Linked DNA regions of Homo sapiens: regions 1 and 3 are each linked to region 2. Evidence: fine-mapped QTL for protein levels in blood plasma. A gene starts in region 2. Each other region holds a variant in brackets. All regions are shown on one strand. Distances are between the middles of the regions. Region 1 overlaps TNFRSF19 (TNF receptor superfamily member 19). Region 2 holds the start of TNFRSF19 (TNF receptor superfamily member 19). Region 3 overlaps TNFRSF19 (TNF receptor superfamily member 19).

Evidence for each region. PIP is the chance, under the fine-mapping model, that this variant and not a neighbour inherited with it causes the effect. Protein levels are from antibody-based Olink assays in UK Biobank. Linkage for the fine-mapping came from a reference panel and not from the study's own genotypes, which makes the PIPs less certain.
Region 1: its variant is fine-mapped to the plasma level of the TNFRSF19 protein (UK Biobank, PIP above 0.99). The variant lies in the coding sequence of TNFRSF19. If it changes the protein, the assay may bind it differently, which can mimic a change of level.
Region 3: its variant is fine-mapped to the plasma level of the TNFRSF19 protein (UK Biobank, PIP above 0.99).

The regions. Positions count from the first base shown.
Region 1 is chr13:23,657,648-23,660,415 of GRCh38, forward strand. It overlaps TNFRSF19 (TNF receptor superfamily member 19), which reads left to right. Exons shown (of 10, transcript NM_148957.4): 6 at 1,403-1,567; 7 at 2,718-2,768. Among named protein-coding and RNA genes, the nearest start is that of TNFRSF19, 89 kb to the left of the region's middle. The variant C/T (reference allele first, on the strand shown) is at 1,433.
Region 2 is chr13:23,569,022-23,571,789 of GRCh38, forward strand. TNFRSF19 (TNF receptor superfamily member 19) reads left to right here and starts at 1,391. Exons shown (of 10, transcript NM_148957.4): 1 at 1,391-1,827.
Region 3 is chr13:23,612,659-23,615,426 of GRCh38, forward strand. All of the region lies in intron 3 of TNFRSF19 (TNF receptor superfamily member 19), which reads left to right. Among named protein-coding and RNA genes, the nearest start is that of TNFRSF19, 44 kb to the left of the region's middle. The variant T/C (reference allele first, on the strand shown) is at 1,473.

The DNA of each region.
Region 1 (2,768 bases), 89 kb after region 2:
TAAGTAAAATAGACTAAAGTTAATTTTACCTGTTTCTTCTTCTTCTTCTTCTTCTTTTTTTCTTGAGACAGAGTCTCGCTCTGTCGTCCAGGCTGGAGCGCAGTGGTGCGATCACAGCTCACTGCAGCTTCATAGGCTCAAGGGATCCTCTCAATTCAGCCTCCCAAAGTGCTGGGATTACAGGCATGAGCCACCGCACCTTGCCTCTCTTTTACGTTTTAAATGTGGTTCCTAGACAACCTGAAATGACATGTGAAGCACACATTATACCTCTACCTGGAGTAATCTTCAGTCGAGGGGAGGCTCCTGTGGTGAGCAGCACCTGCCGGGGAAGCAGAGTGAGGGCCCCTCAGCTCACTCAGGGCATCTGCTTGGGAAAGAGAAAATGTAACTGCCCCTCTGTGTAGATTCATGCCCCTTTTAAATCCATTTCTCTCATTATTTTGGGGTTAGTTAAGTAGGATATGCTGTTTAACTGCACTAGATATAGATCTCTGATTTAAATGAGTTTGTTTATCCTGGTACCCTCAGGATAGTTTTAAAATGGTAATTACTATCATCATCATTACAGTGGCTAATGATTCTACAGCACAGCCAGTCCCACACACTTTACATAACACATGAGCCAGTCACTATTATTACCTCCATTTGAACAGATGGCAACTTGAAATTCCAGTCAGTGTCTCAAGGTCACACAGGTAGAGGTTGACCCAGGCCATGGGGTTCAGAATCTGCCCTGAACCACAAAGCAGTACTGCCCTCTAAAATAAGATCTATTTCTTGACTTTCTTAGCACATGACTATGCCGGCCTTTCCATAGTGTAATAACAGTATTAGTCTTTTCTCCAAAACTTAGATGTTTTCCAGTAGTTTAACAGCTAAGGCATTCAGAGATGTTTACTGTCTCAAAAACTGGGGTCTACTGTAAGGTTCTGGATGATCCAACTCCTTGTTTTCCCCTAAAGTTGCCCCAAAAAGCATACATGCATTCAGTCTGCTTAAAAATATGGTGTAATTCCAATTAAGTACAAAACATTAGTTCCCTGCCACATGCCAAGTACTGGGCAACCAGAGGTAAAGATGACAGACCCCCAGCTCACAAAGAATTCTGCTCTGGTGGAGCTGAAGGCAGATTCTAGTAACACAATGTGTTGAGGATTGTGTGTCCGTAGCGCTCTGGGAACAGAGGAGAGGGACACCCTGCACATTGTGGGGTGCCGGGTAAAGGTGTCCCATTAAAGACATCTTCTGGGTGGAGGGGGTGCTTGAGCCATCTTTAAATATCTCATGCCAGTTTTCTCACAGCATGGGAAGGCCACTGGTAAGGGTGCCTGCCAGCTTCGCCATAAACACTGCATCTGCAGTTGTTCAGAGCATGCTGACCCCATTCCTGTGGTTTCAGGTGCCAGCAAGGTCAACCTCGTGAAGATCG[C/T]GTCCACGGCCTCCAGCCCACGGGACACGGCGCTGGCTGCCGTTATCTGCAGCGCTCTGGCCACCGTCCTGCTGGCCCTGCTCATCCTCTGTGTCATCTATTGTAAGAGACAGTTTATGGAGAAGAAACCCAGCTGTAAGTTTTGAGCTCATTACATTTCTTAGCATTTAGGGGAAGGGCATTTATTACTATTGTCGTGCAAGTGTTCCACAAGAGACTTGGCTGAGACAAGCACCAGTGAGTTGTGAAAGAACGCAGGGCACAAGAAACACAGGTGATCCCTGAACAGCAGAGGGCTAGGAGAGCAGTTAAGAATCCACACGTCAGTGTTGACTCCCCAAAAACTTAACTACTAATAGCCTATTGTTGACGGGAAGCCTTACTGATAAACAGTTGGTTAATACATCTTGTTTATTATATGTTTCTTTGTTTTTTTGTTTTTTTGGAGACAGAGTCTGGCTCTGTCACCCAGGCTGGAGGGCAGTGGCGTGACTTCAGCTCATGGCAACCTCTGCCTCCCGGATTCAAGTGATTCTCCTGCCTCAGCCTCCGGAGTAGCTGGGACTACAGGCGCCCGCCACCACGCCTGGATAATTTTTGTATTTTTAGTAGAAACGGGGTTTCACCATGTTGGCCAGGCTGGTCTCGAACTCCTGACCTCGTGATCCGCCTGCCTCGGCCTCCCAAAGTGCTGAGATGACAGATGTGAGCCACTGCACCGGCCTATTATATGTATTATGCCCTGTATTCTTACATTAAAGTAAGCTAGAGAAAAGAAAATGTTACTAAGAGAATCATAAGGGAGACAAAATAGATTTACTCTTCATTAAGTGGAAGCGGATCATTGTAAAGGCCTTCATCCTCATCATCTTCATGTTGAGTGGGCTGAGGAGGAGGAGGAGGAGGGTTGGCCTTGGTGTCTCAGCGTGGCAGAGGCTGAAGAAAATCTGTGTATAAGTGACCTGCGCAGTTCAAACCCGTGTTGCTTAAGGGTCATCTGTAGAATTCACTGAGGTTGCACAGCTTTGTAAGGAGACTTACAAGGCTGTGATGTCCCTGCGCCACTAGGCAAAAATAAAAATCATTCTCAGTAATGGCAACATTAGTACCCTACATTTTGAACTTTCTTAACAAATTATTTCATGTTTGTGCTTCCATGTAAGAAGAAGTCATCAAACATTGGAAGGATAGCTGATTTGTTCTTTAAAAATACAAAAGCTAGAATGGCACAGGTCCACTAGAGAGGAGACTGTGTTCCCTGACAGAGTTCTCACCCCTCATTTAGGGTCTCTGCGGTCACAGGACATTCAGTACAACGGCTCTGAGCTGTCGTGTT
Region 2 (2,768 bases):
CCTGTGCATTTTTGAGAAATGATGTATAAGTAGAAAAATTATACAAGAAACATGGAAAAATCAACAGGACTATTTAAATGTTATACAGAACTTATGAACAGTTCAAACTAAATATTTTGCTATTAAAATTATTCAAGAATCATAGAAATCTGGAAATAAACACTTCATAAATAACGTTTTCAAATATCGCGTCAGGAAAAATTAGACAAAACCAGTTAAGGAGGGAAGTTACATTGAAAAAGACTGAGTTCTACTATCCCCTAAGTTTTGCAAAAATATTTTTAACTTACTTTCTAAAAGTTAGTGAGTTTCCATTATAAAATAGAAAAATTGTCTTCATTCCATGAAAGAACTGTCTGAAAATCAGAAAAGCACCATATCCTGGATTTCAAGGAAGATGAAACTTCTTCTTATCTTCTATTTTACTAAATACTCAAAATAAAATAATCATATTGTATTGAATCTGACATTGTTAAGGAAAATAGCTTAAAATTTTTAAATAATGAGCAATATATTTAATTTTAAAATACGAAGAATTAGGCTAAGGTGGTAATTTTTTAGTGAGTTGAAAGTCCAAACTATGAGTTCGGAAGAAACAGCCCTAAAAGGCAAATAACATGGCTTTGGAATAATCACAGGGCAAATGCTTTGTTCTACATAATTCTTCTTTTGTGAATTTTAAAATGCTCAACAAGTATTAATGAAATATGTCTAAGAAGTAGATATTGCTTTAAAATCTAATTTCCAGAGTCCCGAACTAAGGCAAAGATTGAGATTAAGTCTCCGCCCAAAGTCTTAAGTGAGCCAGTGGAAGATGGCAGTTTATTCATGAATTGTTGGTTATCTGCTGCTTAACTACTTAACACAACCCGGTTTGATTGGTAATCAGATCCTAATAATGTATGTTTCAAAGAAAGGGCAGTTTCCTTAAAATCCTTAAAGACTTGTCACTTTGAAAACTGGAATCAAAATGTGAAAATGTTATCGGTCCATCTGGCAGTGTCCTTGGGTGTTTTTTAGAGTGGTCTCATAGTGCTATTTAACTATGCTGAATATTTGACACCCAGTCTCTGTAGGAAATTGTGATTTTTATCAGCGAAGAGGCAATTAAATGCTGTCATTTGGCACGTCCATCCATCAGGGATCTTATCACCCAAGAAGCATCCAGCAGCAGTTGCTGTCCTTTCCAGCTGGCAGACAGATAACAGAAACTGTCCTGTGTGAGGCACAATAGTCTAACATGATTAGAAATCAGCCAAACTCTGGCTTCTCTTGAGCTATACTCCCCCACAGGCTGAATTATAGCTCTCCTACCAGTCCCACGGCGCTGAATGATGTCATGGGATCTGCAGTTCAGCGAGATGAAAGGGATAAAGCAGAACCCGCTGGCACTAGGAAAAGCTTCCAACACACAGTCCACAACACAGCTTGGGAACCAAAAAAGCTACAGATCCAGCCACTCAGCCCAAGCATGGGAGAACTACCAGCATTGCCTCATTGCAAAAAAGAGGAGGAAAACAACGTGATCCATGTTTAACAAAAGAGTCTGTGGACTAGGAGGTGGGAGGGTAACTACCTGCTGAAAGTGAACTTTCTTTGATATCCATGCATATATATAAACTCAGCCCTGCCTTTGATGTTCAGCAACTGATTCACTGATCAGATTACAGGCATTTCATCTCCCTGCTCGTCTGCCTTTGATCTGCATGGTTAATTTTATTTTCCTGGATTTGAAGTTTCGTCTGGGCTTGTGCTGACATACATTTTTGGGAAGGTAGAAGCATTTGGCACAGAAGTGCTGCCAGGAGAAACTAAGTTGCTGAACGGGTAAGTACTGCAAAGAGCTCAGCATGTTGCAGGTACTCTGTTTTAAGCTTTGTTATAGCTTTCACTGCATTTTTCGCATGTGTTCTGAGAAAAGAATGGTTTTAATTAATTTTTTAGAAAGCATTTATACAGCTGAATACTACATGATGCTGAATGTGTGTATCAGAGTAACTATGGAACTTGATGTAATTTTTAGTAGTTTGTACAAGAGGGTTTGCAGTCTGTCATACAAATTTTACTTGGAAATGAGTTGTACAAACAGGACAAAACAGAACAGCGCTCACTTTAGCATGCAACTGGTACTTCAACCCCTGAGATCTGTGAGCTATAATTGCTCTAAGTATTTACAGGTTACCTTATTTAGTAAACAGTCAGTGCAACTTTGCTTGTTGAAAATGCTTTCTTTGTTTTCTTATATAAAAGAGTAAAATGTATCTCTGGCAATACTGTTTCTTTAGTTTATTTATTCTCTCACTTCCAAGATGTAAATCTATCAAATACACTTCCTTATGCAGTTTGTACACTCAAGGGAATCACTGAAAAACCATCAAGTATGATTAAAGACTTTTATGTGTAAAACTGAAGAATTTAAAAACAGTGAGGATAAAGTTGCACTAAGTTTGGCTAAAAATACTCCAGTGATTTTCTATAACCTTTGGAAATAGCATAAGCCTTATTTACAGAAACATTCACAAGGTTAATATTCCTAAATTAACATTTACTTTACATTTATAGTGACAGCTGTTTTAAGTCAAAATTTGCCAACTGTTTATGAAAACTATCTGAGTAATCAACAGTTATTATGTTACATAAAGTATCTTAGTCACATTTTCACTTTAGCTAATGCCCAACATGACAAAACCAAATTATATTGCTGTACCGAATTTGAAAGTTAACTGTTATTTTTTTGTCAGTTCATGATACACACACACTCACGCTCA
Region 3 (2,768 bases), 44 kb after region 2:
TTTTGAAAATAGTAAATACTTTAGAGAAAATCTATTTTAAGTAAAATTTCCCAAATAAACAGTCTTTATGAAAGTTCCCATGAGTATTTGGGATATGATCAATGAATTTTATTATTTTGCCAAAAAATAACCACAAAGACCTCCACCACATTAAGTTGTATGTTCATTTTCAAAAGAGTTGTGACACTCAAAACTTTTAGTCCATTGGATTACTTGTACAGTTTCTCAGTGGAGGGAGGAGGTGACTTGGAGACAGTCAGCAGGACAGGGAGCCACAGTTGAATGACTGACTGGCAGGAACGCAGGGCTCTTATAGCACGGTGCAGCAGTTGACTCAGATAGGGTTGAATTAGAGTTTGTGTTCCACTAAACTTGTTTTAATTAAGAAAATTATGATTTCTTTTTGAAAGATTCTTAGTCAATAAAAATGTCTTAGATGGAAATTGGGGTCTGATGATCCCCTTATTTCCAGGGAAGCTTTATGATTCTTGAATCAGCAAAGTTGGTTTATTTATTGGATTGTAGAAAATCCAAAATCCTAACACTTATAGGTATAATTTGTTTAGGAAATGTGCACTCCGTGCTTGATTTAGAGTTGAGCACTTTATATGCATTCCCATTTATTCCTCACACAACCTTTAGGGCAGGTATTCTTATCCCCATCTCACAGATGAAGAGACTGAGGATCGGAGAATTCCCAAAATAACTTGGCCAACAAGTGGCAGAGCTGGCATTCAAACTCATGTCTCTTTAGATCCAATGTAGGAAAATACATACTTTTCTCCTATGTTGACCTGGCTTGAAACAGAATTTCCAAGGACATTTATTTCCAGTTAATGCACCTCTTTCTCTGCATTCTCCTTTCTCTTTCCCTTGTACTTCTCCTCCTTCTTCTTTTCCTTTGTTGTGTTTTAACTCGTACATGAGACTCTTACAACCTCAAGCTGCCTGGATCAAAGTGTGATTTTGAAATACTCTGCTCTTTCCTGAACCTTTGCTGTGGAGAACCCTAGCTTGGGAACAAGGTGGAGACCACCCCCAGAAGGTCACGTGCACCTGTGCCTTGATCCCAAGGGACTTTGGGAGTGGGAGGCTCTCTCCTATACTTCAGAAAGCCTGTGCCTGCACACAGCTCTCCCAGCAACCAAAGTGCTCAGCAAAAACACAGCTGTCCCAGCCCAGAGCCAGAGTCACAATGATCACCCCGCAAAGACCCAGCACATGTCCAGAGAAATTCTCCTTGAATATGCATCTTTATTGTTTTCCTATTACAAGAGTAATGGATGCTTTTTGCAAAAATTACATTTTGCAGAACTGTAAAACTTGAGACCACCCCGTAATTCTAATCTTCCCCTCCTCTGAAAGAGATAATCCCTGTTAACAATTTTAAAGAAATTCTAACTTGTTAATCAGTTCTTTAAATCAAGTGTTGTTTGTCTCCCCCCTCCTCTCTGTGCCTCTGATATAGAACA[T/C]TGTGTGGCTGGAGCTCTCAGGAGTGAGGAGGAGGCTGACCTTCCACCCTTTTCTCCTCACTTCTTTGTTGTGCACACTCCCGATGTACGTTTGAAAGACAGGCAGAGTAATTGAAAGGAGGAAAGAAAGTATCACTCACCCAAAATGTGAATGAGTTAATTAGTAAAAATCTAGATGGAAGTGATTCCTCCGAATCCTTTGTTGAGTAGTTTATTAAGTACAGGCAGCACTATCCTTCAAGTTGGTTTTCATTTAATTTTTGGCCAATAAGTACTGCTTAGTTGATTTCGTATACAAATATGGATGAAGAAATTAAAATATGTAAATTTTACAGAAAAAATGGGAATGTTGAACTAGGTGGGACTTGCATTTTAGCATCCAGGGTTTACAAATGAGGAAACTGAGGTTTCTTGCAAGCCTTTCTTCCTCTGCAGCATCCAGTCTGCATTTGTGGGCATGCCCAGCCTGCTGCCTGCATGGGTGCCCTTCTTGCTCTTAAGCCACTGTCTGTTTTTTGTTAATGATGAGTGTTCTATAGAAACCATCACAAAGACCGACAACAGGTGTTACCAACAGTGTGTAGTCCTTCAGCCGCTTCCTGTGGATAAGTAATACATATATATATATATATATATATAGTACCTGGCAGGCCCTGTAGTGTAGTGGTTATGAAGCCTGACTCTGGAATTAGACGATGTAGGTTGAAATCCTGGTTCTAACACTACTTCTGTCACCTAGCCCAAGGTACATAACTTCTCTGACGCTCTATCCCCCAATCTATGAAATGGGAAAAATGGCAGTGCTGCCCTGATTGGGAAGGAGTATGGATTATTGAGATAATGGTGTAAAGTTCTTGGTCTAGAGTAAGCACCCATAAATGTTGGTACTTACATGAATGTTTTTGTAAACAATGGAATCATACTTCTAATTCTGTATTAAAACTTATTTTTAAAATTGTCGTGAACACAGATCACATCTACATTCTTCTTTTTATAGTTGCATTATAATTATGTTACATGATATGCTATAGTTTACTGAGTTCTTGAACTTGTGGAAATGATTGTATGTGGGTCAGAGAGCCATTTGTTTTGCCCACTCTTGGAAAACAGTGTGTTCTGATGTTCAAATCTAGAGAAGCTTGAGACCTTTAGTACCACAGAATTTGTCTCAACAGGAAGTTAACATCCTTTTAACAAATATGTAAGACTCTTTCTACTCTCAGGAAATACTAAATTGCTAACTATTTCAAGGAGCTCTCCATTTGGATTGATTTCTAGGCTTGTCCGCTAATGAAA